Linked DNA regions of Homo sapiens. The protein of the gene in region 1 purifies or fractionates together with the protein of each later gene. This does not show direct contact. Each region holds a gene or a part of one and is shown on either strand. Other genes may lie near its edges. The genes, in order: CSGALNACT1, FAM234B, DSC2, SPINK5, ARFGEF1, PKP1 and FBP1.

Region 1 (3,500 bases):
CCTCCATTTCCCAGATTCAAGCGATTCTCCTGCCTCAGCCTCCCAAGTAGTGAGGACTACAGGCGCCACCACCACGCCTGGCTAATTCTGTATTTTTAATAGAAATGGGGTTTCACCATGTTGGTCAGTTCAGTCTCGAACTCCTGACCTCAAGTGATCTGCCTGTCTCGGCCTCCCAAAGTGCTAGAATTACAAGCATGAGCCACTGCACCTGGTCAGGAGAACAGTCTTGGTGACTCAGTTCTCAAGCTTAATTCTCCTTTTGGCATGGTGAGTTTGGGGTCCTGAGATTCTATTTTTCTTTCACAATCGGAATCATCTGCTCCTGGCTGGTTACTTGGAAGGGGGGAAGCAGGACAGAGAATAAAGCAGCATGCCTGCCTGGCAACCACTACAGTCTGCATTTGGGGGCTGCAGCCTCATGGCCATGGTGCGGACCTTCCCAAACCACACCATCACACTACGTTGGGCACATCAGTGATTTGAGTTGAAGTGTGTCATTGTGTTTGAATGGTTCTGCTGCCTTTCAATCCACTGTTGAGCAGGGGGCACTCTAGTCTAGTGATGGAGTCCCTGCCCAATGAGCACTGCTTCAAAATGAGGATATGGGGCATTGATAAGTGGCCTGACTACTTGAAGAAGCCAATTCCTCCTCATCTTGTCATATCCTGTTCTAGAGCCCACATGGCCAGTACTGGTAAGTTTCAGATGAGGAGGCTGCCCCACTTCTAGGCCCAGGAGGTTTGGCAAAGACAGGAAGTTGTCTTGATTTTTTTTCATGGTTTTTCCAGTTCAGTCCTCTTTTTTGGCAGAGGGTCTTGGTAATTATCAGAGGCTCTTCCTGATGGCAAGAGAGGAGTTGGAGGGGTTCTTTCAGATCACTGGTTTATTGGAAAAAAGCCTTGGGTTGAGGAATCAGGAAGGAAAATTGTACCATTATTCATCCTCAGACGGACCCCTAGCTGAGCATAATGACCTGGCAGCCACCCTGGGAAACACAGATGGATGACAGAGTTAGCACTCTGGGCCTTCTCCAGTGTCTGTGACTGCCTGATGGTGCTTCCCAAGCCAGCAGTGACTCTGTCCCCACCCTGCCTTCTGTGCACACTCATGTTCAGCTCTCTCATCAGGACCTGGTGAGTGGTCAGGGCTTCAGAGCAGCTCTAACATGGACCCATACTGCCAAGCCAGCAATGTTGCCTTCTGGCCAGTGTTGATCAGGGTGGATGAAAGTCCCAGGCAAAGCTAGATCAGGGCAGAGTCCTGCGTGGGGCAGGGAGAACAGGCAAGCCGAGGTGTCTGGTGCTGTGTGTGTGTGCGCCGGCCCCCATATGGTCCACATGGAAACAGTGCGTGGACAGAGCTGGGTACCACTTCCCAGGGCTTTCTGTGCAGCCTGTGGACACATGAAGTGAATTCAAAATGCATATTCAGATTGGGTAGTGCCATGGATATAACATGCATTGTCTTTTCCTTGTAGAAAGGTTGCATGAAGAGAAAGGAAGCAAATTGCCTTTTGCATTAGGCCATATAAAGTGTTCCCCAGCATCCATTTGCCTGAATTTTCTTTCTCTAGAAGCAACACATCATGGAAGCATAGGGATTTACATTTTAAGGCTTAAAAAAAAAGTTCTTCCAAATTAAGGTCATGTCAGACACTAGGTACCTTAAGTTCTTCCCACCCCTTTTCCCATGACTATGACAGGAAGCCCATCCTGTACCCAATCCTCTGTTGCAGCAGAGGAGAGAACAGCATTTATTAGCAACAGCTCAAGCCAGGGTTAGGGGATTCATGCACAGAATAAACTAGATTAACTTGTGCATTAGGTAAGCATGCACACCACCAAATTACCACTCTTCCCTCTAAATTTGTAGCACTGTCTCTACCGTTCACTCAGCAGTTAATCAATCACTTGTAGACTCGTCATTTCTTTCATGCTGTTTCCTCAGTTTCTAACACTGTCTTGTATTCTTATTTAATTACTCAACATGATTTAACTTTTGTAAATATTTGGCCTATCTATACAAATGGACTGTAGGCTGTTCAAGGGGGAGATTCTTGATGTCGCAGCTCATTTAATGCAGCCTATTAAGAGCCTATGTTCTTCTTCCCTTGGCAAAAGTCACTTGCTGTTGTTCAGGTATTTTTGTAGTTGAACTCTCCTGTAGTAGATCCTAGAAACCCTCCTGGAGAAGGTACCTGAATTATGAGTCAGGTGCAACCTGAGTGAGGAAGGACTTGCTCATACATTGTGTTTGTGCTCTGAAAGTTAGAAGATATCCCTGTATAATGGGGAGGAAGAGGTCCCAAAAGATAGGAACCTGGAAACAGCGAAGAAAGAGAATTGCTACTGGCTGTATATATTAAATACATAGAAAGTTAAAGCAAGATGGACTCCAGGATCAGGTGCCTTTAGATGAACAGGTAAAAATCCAGGCATCTCCCATGGGTAAACCTTTCCTGGAAACTGACCAAACCGGGAAGGGAAAAATGGGTTGACCTGACTTACAGGAGCTGGGGCTGCAGACACCTCTAAGAGACATGAAGGTGCTCGCAGTGACCTCACACCATCTGAATGTCTTTGGAGACGGGAGGATAGCGTGTCCTTGACTGGTGCCATACCTAATACTGAAAAGGTTTTGAGCATAACTTCAATGCAACACACAGAAAATGTGCAATGGGGGCACCCCCCCAGAGAAAAGACTCAAGATAAAGTTCTGAAAGAGGAAGAGAATCCCTGCAAATGTAGAGTGGTGCTGAAGTGAATGCAGGATCATAGGAAAAATAGAGTCTTGTCCAGGTGTGGTATCTCATGCCTGTAATCCTAGCACTTTGGGAGGCCGAGGCAGTAGTACCGCATGAAGCCAAGAGTTGGGCAACAAAGTGAGACTCTGTCTCTATAAAAAATTTTTAAGAATTAGCTGGGCATGGTAGCATGCACTTGTAGTCCCAGCTACTTGGGACTTGGCTGAGAGAAGAGGATTGCTTGAGCCCAGGAGTTTGAGGCTGTAGTGAGCTATGATCATGCCACTGCACTCCAGCCTGGGTGACAGAGCAAGACCCTGTCTCTAAAAGAAAAAGTGTATTATATACAAGTATATATAATGTACATATGTAAAGTAAGTTTTTTTAACCAAAGAAAAATAGCGTCTTAGTGTGTAAAGGGGAATTTGAGCTCTGTAACCACTGGATTTTGTACCTGGAAACAGAGACAAAAGGGGTAGAGTGACTTGCCTCAAATCCATCAGAGGCACAGCTAGGTTTAGAATGATTCATACATTCATACACTCATTCAGAAACATCTGTTGAACACTTATGGGGCCCCAGGCACAGTTCTAGTCCTGGATCCAGGTTTCCAGACTCCTAGACCAGTGCTCTACCCATCATGAGGCCTCCTAACCTGATCCAAATCTGAAAGGCATGTTTGGCATCAAACTCTGACATGGGCTCACTGATCCCTAAGATAAGAATCCAAGCTCACTCCCAGATCCAAAAGAAG
Region 2 (3,500 bases), on another chromosome or scaffold:
ATCTTGTCAGATTCCTCTCTTGGGACCTGTACATTGCCTTTTCTTTTCTTTTCTTTTTTTTTTTTTTTATTTTTTGAGACAGAGTCTCTCTCTGTCACCCAGGCTGGAGTGCAGTGGCATGATCTTGGCTCACTGCAACCTGTGCCTCCCAGGTTCAAGTGATTCTCCTGCCTCAGCCTCCTGAGTAGCTGGGGCTACAGGCATACCACCAAGCCCAGCTTTTTTTTCTCTTTTTTTTTTTTTTTTTGTATTTTCGGTAGGGACAGGGTTTCTCCATGTTGGCCAGGCTGGTCTCGAACTCCTGACCTCAGGTCATCTGCCCACCTCGGCCTCCTAAAGTGCTGGGATTACAGGCATGAGCCACCGCACCAGGCCTGCCTTCCTTTTTTTTCTTACAAGGGAGAAAGCATTTTCCAGCTGTAGATAGTGGTTTGAAAGAGTTAGTGATTACTATTTTGAGCTCTTTGAAATATGTCTCTTATACAGGGGAGTTTCTTTCAAACACATTCTTGTAGTTAGGATCAGGCATTAGCATCTGAGAGGAATGAGTAATCACCATTTTCTACTCTGCCTTTTCACCTGAGGACTGTCACGTGTGGGAATGTAGCGTTACCTTTGCTCTTCCTTTTTGCTGCTTATTATCAGGATATCATCCTAGGAACTGAGCCGCCCAGCCTTCACCACCTTTACCTCCTGCATCCTGCGTTCCCCTCCATCCTTCTGGATCTGGCCAACACCACCGGCACAGTGACGGCTTCAGAGGGTGAGTCCCAGTGCCAGCGGGAGTCTGTGTACGCAGATGGTGGGAGAGTATGTGTTGGCTGTGTGTAATGAGACCATTGCCCCACCCAGGGAAGGATGTGTGCTTCTCAGACGACAGCAGGGCACTTTCCCTGGTGTCCCTGGTGCCTCTTTGCTGGAATGCTCCCCTGGGTGGAAGCCCCGGGCTCACAGGGTGAGAACCCATATGCTCTGAATGTGGAGGTGAAAGCGCGTCCCATTCCAAAGGGTCTGTAAGGTGATGATTCATCCAGCCACTCCTTCAGCAGACATTTAATGAGCATCATCTGTATGCCAGACACTGTGCCAGGTGCTGGGACTACAAATAAGACTAGTTTCTTGACCCACTCAGAGATTAGGATTTGGAATTAACTGTGAAGGACATGATGGAGATAGAATGTGTTTTGCCAGGGCATTGATTTAGAAAACCTTTTTTTGAATATAACTGTGCACCCTGCATAGAAATTGGAGAAAGAAGAAAAATCAAAGGAAGAAAGAAAAATTGGCCATAATCTGGCCACTCATAACCACTATTAGCATTTTGGAAGTGTTCTTCTACTTTACATATCTGTCTAAATAACACTGTAAATAAAATGGGATCCTATATGGGAGACCCTCAACTCAGGAAACCAAAGCATTGGGATTGCAGCCTCTGCTGCCTGCTAGTCTAGGTTGTCTGGTGATCTCCTCAGCGATTCCTTCCCTCATGGAATCTGCTGTTCCTGTTGGGAGGTCAGGGAGTGCAGGAGTGGGAGAGGACCAGATGACCACATCTCCTTTCTTTCTTTCCACATTCTCTTGCTACTTATGGACTTGGCTGTCTACTTACAAACTCATTGGCCTTGGGCTGCAGCTGGTGTTTGTAGCTCTCTCGATTTATTGGGATACACGGGGAAGAACAGCTTACCTGGAACTTGCAGGCACACCTGTCCACTGATTGGGGGGTGGGGGCAGGGAGGTATGAGCTTGGAAAATCCTGTGATTAGATCTGAGTGAGCTGTTTTTTCAACAGTAGCATAAAATATTCAGTGAACATCAAATAATGGTAATTAAGAATCTTGACACCATTTTTATTACAACTTGTATTTTATTTTATTTATTCATTTTTTAAATTTTATTATTATTATACTTTAAGGTTTAGGGTACATGTGCACAATGTGCAGGTTAGTTACATATGTATACATGTGCCATGCTGGTGTGCTGCACCCATTAACTCGTCATCTAGCATTAGGTATATCTCCTAATGCTATCCCTCCCCCCTCCCCCCCACCCCACAACAGTCCCCAGAGTGTGATGTTCCCCTTCTTGTGTCCATGTGTTCTCATTGTTCTATTCCCACCTATGAGTGAGAACATGCGGTGTTTGGTTTTTTGTCCTTGCGATAGTTTACTGAGAATGATGATTTCTAATTTCATCCATGTCCCTACAAAGGACATGAACTCATCATTTTTTATGGCTGCATAGTATTCCATGGTGTATATGTGCCACATTTTCTTAATCCAGTCTATCATTGTTGGACATTTGGGTTGGTTCCAAGTCTTTGCTATTGTGAATAGTGCCGCAATAAATATACGTGTGCATGTGTCTTTATGGCAGCATGATTTATAGTCTTTTGGGTATATACCCAGTAATGGGATGGCTGGGTCAAATGGTATTTCTAGTTCTAGATCCCTGAGGAATCGCCACACTGACTTCCACAATGGTTGAACTAGTTTACAGTCCCAACAGTGTAAAAGTATTCCTATTTCTCCACATCCTCTCCAGCACCTGTTGTTTCCTGACTTTTTAATGATTGCCATTCTAACTGGTGTGAGATGGTATCTCATTGTGGTTTTGATTTGCATTTCTCTGATGGCCAGTGATGGTGAGCATTTTTTCATGTGTTTTTTGGCTGCATAAATGTCTTCTTTTGAGAAGTGTCTGTTCATGTCCTTCGCCCACTTGTTGATGGGGTTGTTTGTTTTTTTCTTGTAAATTTGTTGGAGTTCACTGTAGATTCTGGATATTAGCCCTTTGTCAGATGAGTAGGTTGCGAAAATTTTCTCCCATTTTGTAGGTTGCCTGTTCACTCTGATGGTAGTTTCTTTTGCTGTGCAGAAGCTCTTTAGTTTAATTAGATCCCGTTTGTCAATTTTGTCTTTTGTTGCCATTGCTTTTGGTGTTTTAGACATGAAGTCCTTGCCCATGCCTATGTCCTGAATGGTAATGCCTAGGTTTCTTTCTAGGGTTTTTATGGTTTTAGGTCTAACGTTTAAGTCCACAGCCAATATCCTACTGAATGGGCAAAAACTGGAAGCATTCCCTTTGAAAACTGGCATAAGACAGGGATGCCCTCTCTCACCACTCCTATTCAACATAGTGTTGGAAGTTCTGGCTAGGGCAGTTAGGCAAGAGAAGGAAATAAAGGGTATTCAATTAGGAAAAGAGGAAGTCAAATTGTCCATGTTTGCAGATGACATGATTGCATATCTAGAAAACCCCATTGTCTCAGCCCAAAATCTCCTTAAGCTGATAAGCAACTTCAGCAAAGTCTCAGGATACAAAATCAATGTACAAAAATCACAGGCATTCTTATACACCAATAACAGACAAACAGAGAGCCATATCATGAGTGAACTCCCATTCACAATTGCTTCAAAGAGAATAAAAGACCTAGGAATCCAACTTACAAGGGACATGAAGGACCTCTTCAAGGAGAACTACAAACCACTGCTCAAGGA
Region 3 (3,041 bases), on another chromosome or scaffold:
AGAGAGAATGAAACAAAACAGCCCTTGCCATTTCCCATGCACCAACTATCACTCCATACGGAGGCACATCAGTGAGTATCTCTTCTTTAATCTCACGTATACCTAGAATTTAGGATATACCAAATGGCTTGAGAAGAATATGCTCCAAATCCATGACACAGTAAAATTCCTCTATAAAACAAGATTTAGGGTGTGTTCTTTTAAATTAAAGTGCTCTGTTTACCTGACTAGCTATTTCAAAGCTCTAGCTTCTTTTTGTTGCCTGTTTTTTAGCATTATGCTCTTTTGTTTTACCTTAAGACTCTATATTGCATGTCTTATTTGAAATATCTAAAGTTTAAAATGCAGCCTCATAATGTATCTATTTGCTTAATTTAAAACATTTAAGCAAAAGTAATAGGTTCTGCTTCTTAGCTATTGATGGGATAAAGAACACAAGGACAGGTGGGGAGAGAAGAGCTTCTTGGAAGAAAGATCAGATCCTACTTCTCAAGATTTCAGTCCTCAAACCTAGAAAACCAGAACTGGTGAAGAGGAAATAATAAAGGGGGTCATACAACTGATCCCCTCTCCCCAGAAAGCAAAACACATAGGTCTGTCCTACATGTCCTACGTGAGAAGAGCAGGGCTGGGAACTACCTCTTACGTGTTATCTTCCAAGTGACATTATCAGTTCACAGCACAATATAGGCATTGCCTCTGAGGCTCATTGCTATGCATTTCTTTCCCTATTCTCTACTTCTTGTGTGAAGATTTTCTTCTCTCAGGGCACACATGAGCACGGTGGTTTCCTGTTACAGAATGTTCTCCCAGCCTAACATGGAAAAAGCTCGTAGATGTATGCCACTTTCTTTGCTTTGTGGTTTCTCAAGATATTTTTTGAAGCAAGGCCTGACTTACAACATTTTATAAATAACTAATGGGAATTTTGGCAAACTCATAAGAATCATTTCTTGAATTTCTAAACATAAGTGGTTTTTAGTTGCTTTTCCTCAGGTGGTTAGAGAGTGGCCTTTTGGTTAAAAAAAAAAAATTCACTGCAGTGTTTGAACCTGGCAATGATGAAGTGACAGTCGCAAACATAATTTTCACATTGGCTAAAAATTTTCAAGTTGAGAAAAAGAATTCTTTAGGCAATATGCAGTCTGATCTTAGCCAGGTACCTAACACACATGTGCATTTATTCATTCATCCATTTATTCATCACACACCAAATATATTCAGTGTCTACTGCTCTACATGTTAGGCATACAGTGGTCAAGAAGACAGAGGAGAACCCTTGGGGGTTACATTTCAATATGGGGCAATTATTGGTGGCTACAAGTAGGTTCGTGCAATTATTGGTGGTAGGATTTGAGCTGGCCTGAACCACAATATTCAGACACTACCCCTTCTGTCTGCCCCTCTCACTATCCCAAGGGAGAAGGGATTCCAAAATCTCAACACTTCACTTTCCTGTATTAAGCTGTGAATGCAAACAATTGTTCTAGTCATTCAATGTCTTCTGAGGAAAAACAATTCAGTGCAGAATCTAACATACACCATGTCTATCATGTAAAATTTATGCCACAGAAAATTAGTATGTGCTGAGAATAAAAAACCTAACTTTTATTATTTCTCTTTTTTCCTTTATGACCTGGGCAATATAATTTGATGAATCAAAATTTGGCCAGGCACAGTGGCTTATGCCTGTAATCCCAGCACTTTGGGAGGCCAAGTGCTGACAGATCACTTGAGGTCAGGAGTTCAAGACCAGCCTGGCCAACATGGTGAAACCCTTTCTCTGCTAAAAATACAAAAATTAACCAGGCGTGGTGGTAGGTGCCTGTAATCCCAGCTACTCAGGAGGCTGAGGCAGAAGAATTGCTTGAACCTGGGAGGCAGAGGTTGCAGTGAGCCATGATCATGCCACTGCACTCCAGCCTAGGTGACAGAGTGAGATTCCGTCTCAAAAAAAAAAAAAAAAAAATTAATGGCCAGAGTTGTATAGGCATGCAATTGTGAACACCTTTCTTGGTCCTTAGTGTCCTACATGAAAGAAAAGAAACACACACACAAACCTGTAGATGAAAACTTTACAGCCATGTGCTCTAGACACACAAATGTCTAGGCGGTAGTATTTTTACTAGATCCTCAAAAAGTAATATTTTTACAAAGAAAGAGACAATGAGTAAAGACATTGTAAAAAGAGAACTAATCATGAGCAAGGCACAAATTGAAAAATGAAGGATACAAGGAGATTGGGGAAATTAGTACAGAAGGTCCTCAACTTAAGATGGCTCGATCTGATATTTCAACTTTATGATGGTGTCAAAGAAATATGCATTCAGCATTCTCCTACACTTATGAGACTACATCCCAATAAGCTTATTTTAAGTTGAACATATGGTAAATGGAAAATGCTGTTTTGATTTGTAATATTTTCAATTTACCATGGGTTTATCAGGATGTAACCCCATCATAAGTCAAGAAGCATCTGTATTTAAAAGTGATTTTGTGTTTAGAATTTATCCTCTAAAACCCTATAGAAAGCTCTTAGGCAGAATGGCATGATCATATCTGCTCTTTGATGGCCCTTGAAAAAAGAGAAGAGGGAAGAAATTGGAAGCATAAACACCATTGGAGCTGAGTGATGCTGAAGATTTAATCTGGGGTACTGGCGGGGGGGAATATTGATCAGGAATGAAGTGAAGAGTGGGAACAGCTGACATAGGGTACACCTCAACCTCATGAATGCTTGGATTGGGAGTAGCAGAAGCAGAAGTTCACTCACTAGTGTCCTGAAGTTCTTTCACATCATCTGAAGCTTTTTAAAAACATGCATTATGCACTTACTATGTGCCAGGCATTGTGTGATGTGTTTTACAGGCATTAGCCCACTCCTTACATCCACCGTGTCTTGACTTGCATTCAAGTGTGTGGGTGGGGAGAGTGGCTGATTCATCTTGCACTTTCTCATAGAAGCACAGTCCTTCTAGTCTCTGTTTTAAAAGGCTACATATGACTGCACTGGGAAGGCATCAAATGACTACAGTACAAAC
Region 4 (3,500 bases), on another chromosome or scaffold:
TGGAAAGAAAGAAAGAAACCTTTACTCACAGTATCATTTTGCACGTGGCACATTTATTGATGAACATTATTCCATCAAGACTTTGAAAAAATTTCTTATCCTGGGGACAGAACAGTTTTCCATTTTTCATAAATGCCTGAAATTCATGGCACATTTCCTAAGATAATGCCAAAAAAGTTGTGTTAGCTAAAAGTACATCAAAACAAGCTTTATTTTGATATATATATGTAGATATATGTATATGTCTGCATATATATACACACACAATTCCAAGGTTTTTTGAAGATTAAGTATGTAAAGCCCTCAAAGAATGCCTGATACATAGTAGATATTCAATTAATAAATTATCCTCCTTCCTTCTTCCTCCTTTTTTATTATTATTGTTTTGATGTTGCTGGTGATTGTCAGTATTATTACTGGAATATGCTAAGATGACACATATAAAATACCTAGTACACAGTAGGCCAATAGTAATTGCTGTGAAAGGAATATGAAAATGTTGCTGAAGGACTGAGGCAAGGTGTTTGAGCATTGAACATTATAAAATGTCTGCCTACATTTCCCCATGGCTGTACTGCAACATATCAGTTCCTAGAAATTTTAACAGTGTTAAATGAAAAAAGGATTTCTTGGTTATATTTATCTGGAAAACAAGTTTCTAGACTGGTTTATTTTCTGAAAAGAACTTCATGTCCCTTGATAAATCATTTGACTTATGAGCACAGGCAGACTTACCTTAAAGCTAATAAAGCTTAAGATTCAGGGCCCTTCACTGTCACATCCCCCTTCCGAGGTTCTGGGAGAGGCCTAACCATTTTGCATTTTCAAATTTGTATTATATTTTTTAGAAAGTACCCATACTTCCACCCCCACCACCATCCCCACAAATGTCATCAGCACTACTATCACTACCATCAGAATCAAACCTTGTGAATCTATGGAAGTACTGAGGAAATTTCTCAATAATTGCATAAGGCTTTCTCTCTCTTTCTCTCTCTTTCTCTCTCTCTCTGGTAATTTTTTTTTTGGCACATCCCTTGGAACTAAAATCCTACTATGTTTGTTTTGGGCTTTTGGTTTTGTAAATACCAATAACTCCGTTATACAAAGTTTAAGGAGGACAGGGGAAACATTTTAAATAATAGAATTGGTGGGGAAAAGGAAAGTAGAATGATCTTCAAAAGTGGTAATTCTTTGATTCATTCAATATTAAATATTAATAAATAATATTAAATATTATTATTAAAGTCCTGCTATACATCACTCATTCTTTTTTAGGAGCTTAAAATATGGTGCATTTCTGCTACCTAGTAAAGTATGATTTTAAAATGTTATATTCCCTTTTAATTTAGAAAATTCACTAGGTATTTATTTATCTTTAGATGGAGTCTTGCTCTATCGCCCAGGCTGGAGTGCAGTGGCATGATCTTGGCTCACTGCAACCTCTACCTCCCAGGTTCAAGAGGTTGTCCTGCCTGAGCCCCCTGAGTAGCTGGGATTACAGGTGCATGCTACCACATCTAGGTAATTTTTGTATTTTTAGCAGAGATGGGATTTCACCATGTTGGGCAGGCTGATCTCGAACTCCTGACCTCAAATGATACACCTGCCTCAGCCTCCCAAAGTGCTGGAATTACAAGCATGAGCCACTGTACCCAGTGAAAATTCACTAGGTCTTTAGAATAGGCCTTTGGAATCTAAGGGGATTTTTGTTGTTTTTTGTTTTGATTTTTTTTAATCTGCTTCAAGTTGCTTGTATCAGGAAACAAATAAACAAAGCTTTTGCTTCAACTCTGACAAACACAACCTGTTCCAAAAAATTTATTAAAGGTTTCTATTTAGGCTCCTATATCTATATCTGGTGTTTTGTGCTTGTTTTTTCTTTCTTTCTTTCTTTCTTTTTTTTTTTTTTTTTTTTTTTTTTTGGAGAGGCAGGGTCTCACTACATCGCCCAGGCTGGTCTTGAACTCCAGTAGTCTCCTATATCTTTATGATCATCATTGAATGAGCCAGCAATCACTTATTATTGGATTACTATACTTTGCTAGGTGACATAGATACAGCATTAGGTAGAACAGAAGTATACTTGCCTGGATGAATAATGATGTACTTAATCTAGCCTCTTAAAAATGGTAGGCAGTTGGTAGCACTTGCAAAATGATTAATGGTGAAGGAGAATAACTAAACGATATCACAGACCAGCCCTGGGAAATTTAGCTAAGGATGGCATGCTTAAATATCTCTAAGATTATTATAGCTACACAGTGACTCCATCAGAGTAGCAGAGTAGTAATTTCTGGACACAGATTAATAACTGGGCATCTTGAGACCTGTCTGATCTCTGATTCTACAGTATCAAATGCCAACTTTGCAAGTTATGCTTACCTTGATGAATATAATTGATCCTAAAATCCATATAGTAGAATCAGAGAAGAGCCTGGGGTCTTTGTAATGAAAATATATCCCTTATTAAGTAAGTCTTATAGAAAGTATATAGACGACTCATGATAATCCTGGAATAAAGCTCTAAATAATTTTGAAAGCTTATCATAAAAGAGTAGCATCAGGCCAGGTGCAGTGGCTCATGGCTGTAACTCAGCAATTTTGGATGCAAAGGGAGGAGGATTGCTTGAAGCCAGAAGTTCAAGATCCTCCTGGGAAATATAATGAGACCTTGTCTCTACTTATAAGAAAAATTAAAGAGTTGCATCAATAAGAATAATCCCTAAATTGGACTTCTCCAATATCACTGTTAGATGAGAACTTAATTCCTAGAAAGACTCCCTTTCTTACAAACTGAGCATCAGAGGCCCAAATAATAGGTTAAGAAATTTGTTCACAGTGATTAATTAGTTAAGATGAGATTCAATGCTATTTTTCTGAGTTATGAAATTATCCAATGTATTCTCTTGGGAAACAGGAAAAGACCATAAAAATGGAAAGCAGCAGTTGAGTTTTTCTCTGAGCAAAATGGAATACCCTTTCAATGACCATAATAGAGAGGGTTGAAACAGAAGCATATTTAGACCAAAAGTCATCCTGAGTTGAGTAGATGACTTTTCAGCACCTGTTTACTTGCAGGGTAACTTCCAGTCCCTGGCCTGTTTTTGTTTTGTTTTGTTACTGTTGCTGTTATTCTCTTTTTCTCAGCATGTCCCAGGAAAACTGGAGCCCTCTAGGGCCAAGTTCTTCCTGTTTCCCTCACTGGCTGAGGCCTAATTTGTTGTCTTCTATTGTCCATCTCCAGATATTATAATAAAACCCTCCAGGAGCTGCCATTGCCCTATCTCAGTGTTAGAGCACTGACCAGCTTGCTTTTGCCTGAAGAATGACTCTTAGGTGATGACAAATTTAAGCATGCTTAAGATCCTTGCAGATTGCTGCAGTGCTTTTCCCTGCTGTTTAGGTTCATGTTTATGACATTTAACATGCTTTTATCATGCTGAAAGGAACCCAAGCTACTAAACTTGGAAAATAACCAAAATCACAGCATCGTAAAA
Region 5 (3,500 bases), about 48 Mb from region 1:
AATACTAAAACTGTGACAAATAGATGTATTCACAAGGTAAGAAAATAACACAGTAGAAGTAACTAACTTAGATGGTCATAATATATTTCCTGGGAAAGGTGACTCTGGAACTATTTTGAAGAACAATTATATCTTTTATAAACAATAAGAAAAAACATGCAAGAGAGGAAGAAGCCATACTAAAACACAAAAGCACAAGACAGTATTATATAATAAATAGTTCTGCATTGTTGGAAAGTGAGGTGAGACAGAAAAGTGGCAGGAAATGAAGCTTAGAGTCCAGCAGATCCAAATCATGAAGGTATTATCATACCTTCAAAGCAGCTTTGGTTTTATTCTCTAAGAGAGGGAAAAAATAGACTTTCATTCAAGAAAGGTTACTCTAGTTAAGCATGGGAAAAGACTGAAGAATGAACAAAACCAAAGAAAAAGGTAAGCCAATTGAAAGATTATACTAGTTGAGGAAATAAATAATCATGATTTGATTTGCAAGAATAGTGGTGGGAGATCGAGAAAAGAGTACAGATTGCAGGGATATTAGGAAGTATAATCAACAAGTCTTAGTGACAGATTAGATTCGAGAATCTAATCCTTTGAGGGGAAAATCTAAGCTAACTCCCAGGATTTTAGCTTATAAATTTAGTAGCATGCTGGGGTTACTACCATAAATAAGAAATACAAAAATAACAGGCTTCTCTATTTGTCTTTTGTTTTGGGTAGGAGAACTAAGGGGCTGATGTTGGAAAAGGGCTGAGGAACAGAACGCTGGCAATGCTAAGATGCACGCAGGAAGAAAGAAAAAACAGCCCACAAGACTGAGACGGCATAGTCAAAAAGGTAGGAGAGAAACAGGATAGACTGGTGTCATGAAACAGTTGTAGACAAGTATACTAGGAATACAGTTCCATGAAAGCATTCTCATCAATGGCTGTATTAAGTAGAAAGCAAGTCTAGCTGCTGAGAGAAGGACTGGGAGACTTCCACTTCGAAGCCCTCTGACTACTCCTTCTCATTTCTCAAGTACTTCAAAATAAGTACCTTGGCAGTACTTACTCTGTACGACACTCTTTTATAAACATTTACACAGTACTATTTTTAAAAATTGCTCATGTTTAGAATGCAATCTTGAATACAAGGACCAATGCCTTCATGGTGCTTGGCAATAGTCCCAAGTACCAAATATGTGTTTACTGGGTGACCAGCAGAATTTCAATATGCATATTTGTTTACACACACTAGACCAAGAGCCTCTCAGAAGGAAGGGCTTTTCCATGTATCTAGTTTCCCCAGGATCTTGCATAATATCTGGAAAGATGAGACTTTAATAAATATTGACTGAACAATTAGAATTAATGCAGTAGTGACAGCTATTTCCTGAGGCAATTTGGTAAGATTTTGTAATTTTAAAATAGAATATGTGTACATTTTTGTTGAACTGTTTTTCATATTAACACTGGAGAAAAAAGACACCTGAACATTCACTAAAAGGCACTGCTTAAGTATCAGGAAGAAATGCTTTACAGAAGTAGCAAACCAAGTAAGCACACAGGGGAATTTTTAAGTTTATAATAGTTAGATTCATGGAGACGGCAAACAATTTCATTTTTCCTTATGGCATCTCTTTGAAAAAAAGAGATGGGCAACAAGAGAAAGGAAGGCAGCATGGTGACATTCACAAAGGAAATAGTCCAGGAGCAGGCAGGTATCACAAAGCTTAGTGGGAAAACTGACTTCACAAGATTAGGATCCGGTACACTAGCCAGGCTGGAAGAGAGGTGATCACCTCATCAACATATAAAAATGAAATCAATAACAAGAATAGTACATTTGTAAGCCAGCTGGAAAAAATGTAAGACCTATAAAGGAGTACTGATAGCTATTAGAAGTTTCATATTTTAAATGTTTTGAGTTGTCACATGATTAGAAAATATAATGGGGGGATGTCATGAGCTAAACAGTGCAAAATTGCACAGATGATACCCATCAACAGCACTTATAATATGGTGACAAATTAATTTATATGACAAGAGTGGTTGGGCATTACAGGAATCTAGTTGGGCTAGACTGCAATGAACAAGGGGGGCTGAATAGGAGCCTCGTGAATTAGATCCATGAGAACTATCCTCCATTTTACTCATTATAAGGTGATAAACCCACGGCAGGGGTGGCACTATACTGGCAGAGAGATATTCAATAACATTTCTCCTTAAGCTATGACACTTACAAATCTATCCCTTGTTCTATTATTTCTTTTTGTTGCTTTAGGACCTCAAATTGTTCTGGATTATCAGTGCCAGACATCTGTGTACTGTAGCTGCCTATTCCTGATGATGATGTTGACTCCAGGGAATTTAAACTTCCGTATCTGTTTATTGTCTCAGGGTGTTTGATTTCACTCATCTCTTGCTCTGAGGGTTTTTCCTGACCTGAAAGAAGAAAAATTGATAGAGTACATTATTCTATCAAAGAAAAAAAAAAGTGTAAGGGCAAACAAATTCTTGAATAAGGCAAGGCGTTTCAATGTTGCTTAGATATCTATTTAATACAAAATAACTATTAGGTAACATAGTAAACAACATACTTTGATATTAAAACACACTGTAATTTGTACGTGTATAGTCTGCACCATTAGGAGGAGTTCTTTTTGCAGTTGCAGTGCTGAGTATCCACTGGATTTCTGCTCTCAGCTCACTCCTCATGAGGAATTGTTTTCGATAATACCAGTGTAGCCCTGCAGCTATGAGTTTTTCTCTGAGTGAGGGTAAACATCAAACACAGATGAACAATTCAACCTTCTTAAAACATACTGCCTTTTATATGTTTCCTCTATAATTATAATACAAGAAAGTTGCATAAATATGCTTCATTTTACATAATCAAAATATTTCTAAGAAGATTTAGAAAAAAATAGTTTGGATAACTAAGTTAAAAATCTCACAATTTTAAAGCTAGACATTTAACTCACAGAGAATGTTTCCTCATCAGTTAAATGAATAAATATGTCATGAAATTGGTTTAACAGCAGCTGCAACTATCCTCCAAAGTATTATTCACTTAAAATGACAAAGAATTACAGCTCAAAATATCACCTTACCAAGAGTTGTCTGGGAGTTGGGATTCACATACTGATCCTTACTCCATTCAACCATACACTTCAAAATCGACACTAAGCATTCTAAACCTTTTTTCCTCAGGCTCAATTCCTACAAAGTAATTCAAAAACAAAATTTTTTTTAAAGGTCTTTTAAGGAAAACACATGACTCTTTCCTGGTAAAGTTTAAATTTGAAAATGTTTTTATAGTTCTTACCTGAACATTACTCATACCAAGTTCTTGACTGCCCCTTCCTTGAGCAATTTTTGATAGATCATTTACTAGTCTTTCAAATATATTGGCTGCATTTAAGTCACAGTCATAGTTTACATAAATATCCACTACACTCTGAGCATCTGTAACAATATAACATTAATTTCAACAAAGTACATCTAGGATATGAGTAC
Region 6 (3,500 bases), on another chromosome or scaffold:
GAGCCACTGAGGACTGGAGGAAGGGCCCCTGGAGCCTGTCACAAAATGCCTGTCTGCACTCATGCTCTCCCTGAAATGCCACAGATCAGACAAGCACCTTGCCCTGGTCATGAAGGCCCCGGGCAGGAAGAAGGTGGCTTCTGTGGCCTGGAGACCTTGCAGAAGGAGGTTGCTCTGAACCTGCCTACCCATCTTGAACTGCCCCTGAAGTATTGCTCCCCTGTGTTTTCAGGCTGTCCCTGTGTGCCTCAGGGTGTCTGGCCTCCTTTTCTTCCCAGACTGTGTGGAAGGCAAGGGGAAACTGAGGGGGATGTCACCACCCAGCAAAAGATCTTTGCCAGGGAAATGACCTCCCTGAGGATGGGGAAGGAAACACTTATCCACCTTCCAGATCTTTATAACTTCACTTGGAATCTCTTCCTAAAGCTGAACCTGAATCTCACTTGCCCTAACCCAAGCGCTCCCCCGCCACTGTGAATACAGATCACACCCAGCTCAGTGAAAGGAGCTTCCTTTCACCTGTCCTGTCTCCTTCCAGGGAAGTCCTAACAACACCAGCACCATTGCCTGCTTTGTCTCACTGCCTGCTTAGCCATCTGTGATTTTTTATTTCAGCCTTTGGCCTGAAATTCTCTTTCTCCCTTCTTCATAGAAGTACTGTTTCCCATCTAAAATTGCTAAGCCTCTATTTCTCTCTGATCAGAGGTAGGGGCTGGAGGCAACATTGAGCCAGGGGAGGTGCCTGCTCCCTTTCTGTAGTTCCTGTGTCTATTCAGCCCTCATCAGGGGAGAGGGGGGCATGCTTGTACGAACTCCGCAGCCTGCACAGTGAAGGAGCTCGCCTCAGGAGCCCCCACTTTGATGGCTTTTTGTATTTGTGTTTGACTATGTCTCAGCATGAGCTTCTGCCCGAGTGTTCTGCTCATTAGAGTTTCTAGAAAGTTGTCCTTTCCTGACCACAGGCATCACTTCTGGGGTTGTTTTCTTGGGACCGAAGCTGAGATTGCAGATGGTAATGGCTATGTGTGCTTTAGCTTGTTCCATTGGCGAAACATACCAATTAAACTTCAAATGAACCAATTCTTGTTTCTTTACAATGTACCTTGGCTTGAAGTTGGAGTTTTAGCCAGAATTTCCGTTGGCCTGTTACAACACATGCAAAAATGCTGGGTATTCTAGGGTGTTTTGCAGCAAATGCTGCTTCTCTGGATCCTGCTCCTTGACAGAGATTTTTTAAAAGTACAAATTCCTCCCCCGACCCCATACCATTGTAAGTATCATTGTGCCAATTGTTCTAGGTTTAGAAATCTGGGAAGCGCTTCTGCGATGGGCCGTGACCCTTACAAGATGTGTAATGTTTGAACAAAATAAAATGGACGAATGTTAGATATCTTCATGTGAAGTTCCTTCTAGGCATACGCTGGACACATGCGCACACATGTATACACACATAGGTCACACATGCATATATGCATGTATACACAATACACCCCACACATGAATCCACACACCCACACATGCACACACGTACACACACATAACATGCACACACTTATGTTATGTGTGTGTACATGTGTGTCCTTGCAGCTGTGCTGTGTCAGGAGCCCAGCCTGGCATCTACCTGGTGTGCGATCTTGGACAAGTCGCTGCCTCTCTTTGGGTCTCTGCAGCTGTCAGAGGTTGGATTAGATCATCTCCAAAGTGCTTTGCAATGGGAACACTCTTTGGAAATAGATTTTATAACTCTCTAGCTCTGCAAACCATTTGCCCAGACCGCCAGCAGCTGTTCTGCCAAAAAGCTCTTCCCCTTAAGGCATGCCACTCATCGTGTCTCTCTCGTAAACATCCTAACATATTAAAAAGTCTTCTCATCCACTCTTCTCAAACTTGGCTACATATTGGAATCACCTGGAAATTTCAAACAACACAAATGCGTGAGTCCCACCCCCAGAGATTCTGACTTAGTGAGTATGAAAGATGGCACGGGCATCAGGACTTCAGAAACTCCCAGGTGATTCTCATGTGTAGCCAAGTTGGAGAACCACTGTTCTAGTCCCTGTCCTTCACTCACACAGATCCAGCATGGGGGAGCACCCCTATACAATGACATACACCCATGTCTTTCTCTCATACACACACACACACGCACACTTAATGTAGTAGTTGCTGGCGAGAGCCTTTGACTCTGAACCCCACCTGAACCCGTCAACCCTTGCCCACTCTAACCCACCACCCTGCCCCCTCACGCCCATCCTGTCCCCACAGGATGCTCCCATGCTCTGCCCAGTCCTCAGGCTTGGTGGTGGCCATGAACAGATCTGCTGAAAGAGCAGCAGGATTGTGGCAGAGCTAGGTCTGAACGCGTCCCAGCAGAGCCTGAGGGAGTCACATGGGCTGGAGAGGGAGAAGAGAGAACACAGGCCACAGCAACCCAGTTTGTTTCAGCATTTCTGTTCAGTACGTACACCCAGGAAAAGGTCAAGAGCCACACCAAAGTGCCCGGTGAGGCTGTGCTGAACTCCTTGCCCTCCCCATCTCCTAGAAGCTGCCGAGTTGGGGAGGCATGTCCACGGTGCTCCCAGCAGCCCAGCAGAGGGGGCAGGAGGCTGGCCAGCCCAGTCCTCCCTCCAGGAGCTGGAACCATCCCGCAGACACAGTCCACTCCTGCCCACTCCGAAACACCTCTGAGGGTATTCTCTCAGCAGTAGCTTCCTGGCAGTTCTTGTTATCTCATTTAAATTCCTATTGCTGTGGGCCTAGCTTTTCTGGGCACCATGGGTGAAAGAGATTTCAGAGGGTGAAGTAAAGGCATTTTCAAGACTAAAAGAAAATGAGCTTCCTTTCTCAAGCTTTTCATGCTGAAGGACAGGTGGGCTTTATTCAAAAGTAGAATATGCTAGAAGAAGCATCGGCCTTAAGGGAGACAGAGTAAGCAAGAATGTGTTCCGAGCAGCTTGCCCTGTGACGAAGGAGAAGGATTTGAGGGGAGGGAAAGTGGAAAAAGCGGATTTCCCTATGACCTCTGTCTGCAGGAAGGCTGATGTCCTGAGAGCCTTCTCTATGTAGAACCTGGGCCTGGGATTGGGGGTGTGGAGTGTGGATCTACCAAAGGTGAAGATTCCTTGCTTCAGGGAGCTCCCAGCTTGGTTGGGGAGACCCAGGCCCTACCTTCTGGGAGGAGTGCACACACACACACACACACACACACACACACACACACAGTGTACAGAAGCCACATTCCAAGGAGCCCACAAGCCAGTGCAGAGTCAGCCGCTGGATTGAGTGCTGACATGGTTATGCTGGCAAGTTTGGAGTGCTCAGAGCTGGGTGCGGTCATCTTTAGGAGAAGCTGATTTTTGTGCAAGGTTTTGAATGCAGGGGGAGGGTTGGAGAAGAAGAGAAAGAATGTTTCAGGTGCAGTAAGTGTGACCTATTTGAAAGCTTGGAGGTGGAAGAGGATGAGTCATCCCTGCAAAGGCTCACCTGCCCCTACTGGAGAG
Region 7 (3,500 bases), on another chromosome or scaffold:
TTGATATTTTGCAAGGAAAATTGCATTCTTCCATGTCTACAACAGAAATGGTATGTTCCTTGGCATGACTTGGAAAATGGATAAATTGTTGCCTTTTTGCCTTTCTAGTATGAGAATTTGAATCTTCTATTCCTCAAACTGATTGTGATGTGGATCTGCCTCTTACCCAAGATAAAAAGCAAAATACGTTCCAATGACCAAAGATAACTGTGCCATGGGGGCTCTACTTTTCACATATTTGAAAGGAAATTATGTATAATACTAGACAATAAGTCACTTTTAGAGATAAAGTGCAAATTTGGGTCTCAGTTCTTTTTTTTTTTTTTTGAGACGGAGTCTAGCTCTGTCACCCGGACTGGAGTCCAGTAGCGCGATCTTGGCTCACTGCAACCTCCACCTCCCAGGTTCATGCCATTCTCCTGCCTCAGCCTCCTGAGTACCTGGGACTACAGGCGCCCGCCACCATGCCCAGTTAATTTTTTGTAATTTTTAGTAGAGACGGGGTTTCACCGTGTTAGCCAGGATGGTCTCAATCTCCTGACCTCATGATCCGCCCACCTCGGCCTCCCAAAGTGCTGGGATTACAGGCGTGAGCCATCTCGCTAGGCCAAGGGTCTCAGTTCTTAAGTTAATGCCTTTGTGTCCTAGAACAGAGTTCAGCTGAACCAACCTCTTCAGTCGATTCCAGCCTGTGAGGTTTCAGTTCTGAAATAAACAAGAGCTGAATATAGAATGGTATGGTAGACTTTGGAGACTTAGAAGGGGGTGATGGGAGGGGATGAGGGATAAAAAAACTGCATATTGGATACAATATATACTATTCTCGTGAGGTATAAACTAAAATCTCAGACTTCACCACTATACAATTCATTCATGTCACCAAAAACTATTTGTACCCCCCAAAGCTGTTAAAACTATATATATATATACTTTTTTTTTTGAGACGGAGTCTTGTTCTGTTGCCCAGGCTGGAGTGCAGTGGTGTGATCTCGGCTCACTGCAACCTCCACCTCCCAGGTTCAAGCGATTCTCCTGCCTCAGCCTCCCGGGACTACAGGCGCCCACCACCATGCCTGGCTGTTTTTTTGTATTTTTAGTAGAGACGGGGTTTCACAGTGTTAGCCAAGGCAGTCTCAATCTCCTGACCTTGTGATCCACCCACCTCGGCCTCCCAAAGTGCTGGGATTACAGGCGTGAGCCACCGCATCCGGCCTAAAATATATACTTTGAAAAAATAAAACAAAACAAGAGCTAAAGCTAAGAGGATGTACCTTGGATTTTATCATGTTTCCTGATGGGTGGATGGGTTTTCATTCTATTTTTCACTTATTCGTATAATTGAGCACCTCTCCCTCTCCCTCTCCTCCCTCTCCTCCTCCTCCTCCCTCTCCTCTCTCTCCTCTCTCTCTCTCTCTTTCTCTCTCTCTCTCTCTCTCAGAAAAAGCAGCTCTGGAGGAGGGGTGACTGCCCGAGTCAGGTGTTAGGAGACCCGAGCAGGGCTGGATTCTCATCCTATGCTGTGTGCTTTCTACGACTTAGAGCAAAGCTCAGTAAACTGTTTCTACAGACAGACAGATAGTAAATTTTTCAGTTTTATGGGCCATACAGTCTCTATCATAACTACAAAACTTTGACAGTGCAGCAGAGAATCAGCCAAAGGCAGTATGTGAAAAAATGAATGTGACCAAATGCCAATTAAAGCTTCATTCGTGAAGAGTAAAACTTAAAATGGATCACGAAACTTTGTTCTTTAGTTTTTTTCAACTATTTAAAAATGTAAAAATGGTTATTCTTTGTTCACAGGCTGTACACATTAGGCCACAGGCTGGACTCAGCCCGGGGCTCATAGCTTATAGACCATTGACTAGGGGACTTAAAGGACAGTTTTGACATAGTCTCTATTGTTGTCTTACACTCTCAACTCTGAGTTCACATCGTATCATCACTATACTTACCCTCTACTGCCTCTTTTTTAAATCTCATTTTCTATCATAAAAAGTAAGACATAGTAAAAAGAGTGAAATATCCTTCTCTTCCCACCCATATTTTACCCTATATTCTCTTTCAACAATCTAGTGGGTCTTCGTCATGCAATTAGTGCTGAAAAGCTCAGAACTTGAGATACAAATCTACTTCAGTCTCACAGTTTCATGATCTCCACTCCGGCTGCTCTGCCACAGTGAAATAGGACTGGATGCTCAATCTTAACTTCTGTCCCCAAACCAAGTGCTTAAGATATCACGTTTTACCTTTCTATAGATGCCAAAAATGGTTCCAACGGACACAAGGCAATCGATGTTGGAAGATCCATCAAGGGGATCAAAACAGACCACATATTTACCCTGAGCACAGAAAAAAGAAATACAACCTTAAAATGTTATAGCAAGATACACTAAAGGAGTATACATTAGGGGCTAAGAATGGGAATTTAGAAGAAAGTTCAAAAAATGTGGGTCTTATTTATTTGTACTGTCATGGAAGGCATGAGATGGCATACAGAATGCACAGATACACACACATACACACAAGACCATTAAACAGAGAAAATACCACTTAAGAGGTGCAGATGAAGGTAATGGAATACAGATAAGTCATGATTTCCTATATTGTTGATATAATCAAATCATAATTTTGCATTGAGTTTCCTGGCAGCCAAAGGAAAAAGAAGGTTAGTCACTCATTTTCCTTTATTTGTAAGGAAAAAAATAATTCCTTAGGTGAAGCAGAGACTTTGCTAGGGTTGAGATCTATAAGAAACTTCTCATGGAGGTCTTACAGATGCCCCTTGAGGTTGGGGTGCATAGAGTTTTCAAAAATATCCTGGCTGGGCACGGTGGCTCATGCCTAATCCTAGCACTTTGGGAGGCTAAGACAGGAGGATTGCTTGAGCCCAGGAGTTTGAGACCAGCCTGGGCAGCATAGAGAGACTCCTTCTGTAAAAAAAAAAAAAAAAAAAAAAAAAAAAAAAAAAATTCAATTAGCTGGGCATGATGCTGCACATCTGTAGTCCCAGCTACTCAGGAGGCTGAGACAGGAGGTATCACTTGAGCCAGGAGTTCGAGGCTGCAGTGAGCCATGACTGTGCACTCCAGTCTGGGTGACAGAATGAGGCCCTGTCTCTAAAAACAAAACTAAACAAAACAAATTTCTAGCGTAATTCCCAAAGTAGATAACTTTCAGTGGTAGTGGGAATACCGCAGATTCCTGTTTTGAGTGGGATTTTCAGTGGTGTGCAGGAGCTGGCTGGTATCGGCTCTCAGGAGCTAACGGTGCACATCTCTTCCCAACTCTGCCTTCAGTGATATCACATTGGTAGCTTAAAATCAACGATGGGAGAGTATTCACACCATTGACAGAGGCAAGTGGACATATCAGAGACTTGTTTGTTTGCTTTGAGACCCAGTTTACCAGCACATCACTGGGAGTTTTCCATCTCCAAATTAGCCACTTTACAATGTCGTTTTTAAATGTCTGTAGCAGATTAACATGATTCCCTGCCC

What was found.
Region 2: the proteins of CSGALNACT1 (region 1) and FAM234B purify together in Homo sapiens (affinity purification with mass spectrometry; 2 studies listed by BioGRID and IntAct, with this or other methods). This does not show direct contact.
Region 3: the proteins of CSGALNACT1 (region 1) and DSC2 purify together in Homo sapiens (affinity purification with mass spectrometry; one large-scale study listed by BioGRID and IntAct). This does not show direct contact.
Region 4: the proteins of CSGALNACT1 (region 1) and SPINK5 purify together in Homo sapiens (affinity purification with mass spectrometry; one large-scale study listed by BioGRID and IntAct). This does not show direct contact.
Region 5: the proteins of CSGALNACT1 (region 1) and ARFGEF1 purify together in Homo sapiens (affinity purification with mass spectrometry; 3 studies listed by BioGRID and IntAct, with this or other methods). This does not show direct contact.
Region 6: the proteins of CSGALNACT1 (region 1) and PKP1 purify together in Homo sapiens (affinity purification with mass spectrometry; one large-scale study listed by BioGRID and IntAct). This does not show direct contact.
Region 7: the proteins of CSGALNACT1 (region 1) and FBP1 purify together in Homo sapiens (affinity purification with mass spectrometry; one large-scale study listed by BioGRID and IntAct). This does not show direct contact.

The regions. Positions count from the first base shown.
Region 1 is NC_000008.11:19,421,778-19,425,277, reverse strand, and holds part of CSGALNACT1 (chondroitin sulfate N-acetylgalactosaminyltransferase 1), read left to right. Parts: intron 1-3,500. UniProt on the Homo sapiens protein: Transfers 1,4-N-acetylgalactosamine (GalNAc) from UDP-GalNAc to the non-reducing end of glucuronic acid (GlcUA). Required for addition of the first GalNAc to the core tetrasaccharide linker and for elongation of chondroitin chains.
Region 2 is NC_000012.12:13,075,381-13,078,880, forward strand, and holds part of FAM234B (protein FAM234B), read left to right. Parts: intron 1-645; coding exon 646-763; intron 764-3,500.
Region 3 is NC_000018.10:31,061,381-31,064,421, forward strand, and holds part of DSC2 (desmocollin-2 isoform Dsc2a preproprotein), read right to left. Parts: 3' UTR 1-3,041. UniProt on the Homo sapiens protein: A component of desmosome cell-cell junctions which are required for positive regulation of cellular adhesion.
Region 4 is NC_000005.10:148,066,980-148,070,479, reverse strand, and holds part of SPINK5 (serine protease inhibitor Kazal-type 5 isoform b preproprotein), read right to left. Parts: intron 158-3,500; coding exon 30-157; intron 1-29. UniProt on the Homo sapiens protein: Serine protease inhibitor, probably important for the anti-inflammatory and/or antimicrobial protection of mucous epithelia.
Region 5 is NC_000008.11:67,263,782-67,267,281, forward strand, and holds part of ARFGEF1 (brefeldin A-inhibited guanine nucleotide-exchange protein 1), read right to left. Parts: intron 3,450-3,500; coding exon 3,310-3,449; intron 3,204-3,309; coding exon 3,095-3,203; intron 2,427-3,094; coding exon 2,225-2,426; intron 1-2,224. UniProt on the Homo sapiens protein: Promotes guanine-nucleotide exchange on ARF1 and ARF3. Promotes the activation of ARF1/ARF3 through replacement of GDP with GTP. Involved in vesicular trafficking.
Region 6 is NC_000001.11:201,286,506-201,290,005, forward strand, and holds part of PKP1 (plakophilin-1), read left to right. Parts: intron 1-3,500. UniProt on the Homo sapiens protein: A component of desmosome cell-cell junctions which are required for positive regulation of cellular adhesion.
Region 7 is NC_000009.12:94,615,519-94,619,018, forward strand, and holds part of FBP1 (fructose-1,6-bisphosphatase 1), read right to left. Parts: intron 2,343-3,500; coding exon 2,250-2,342; intron 1-2,249. UniProt on the Homo sapiens protein: Catalyzes the hydrolysis of fructose 1,6-bisphosphate to fructose 6-phosphate in the presence of divalent cations, acting as a rate-limiting enzyme in gluconeogenesis. Plays a role in regulating glucose sensing and insulin secretion of pancreatic beta-cells.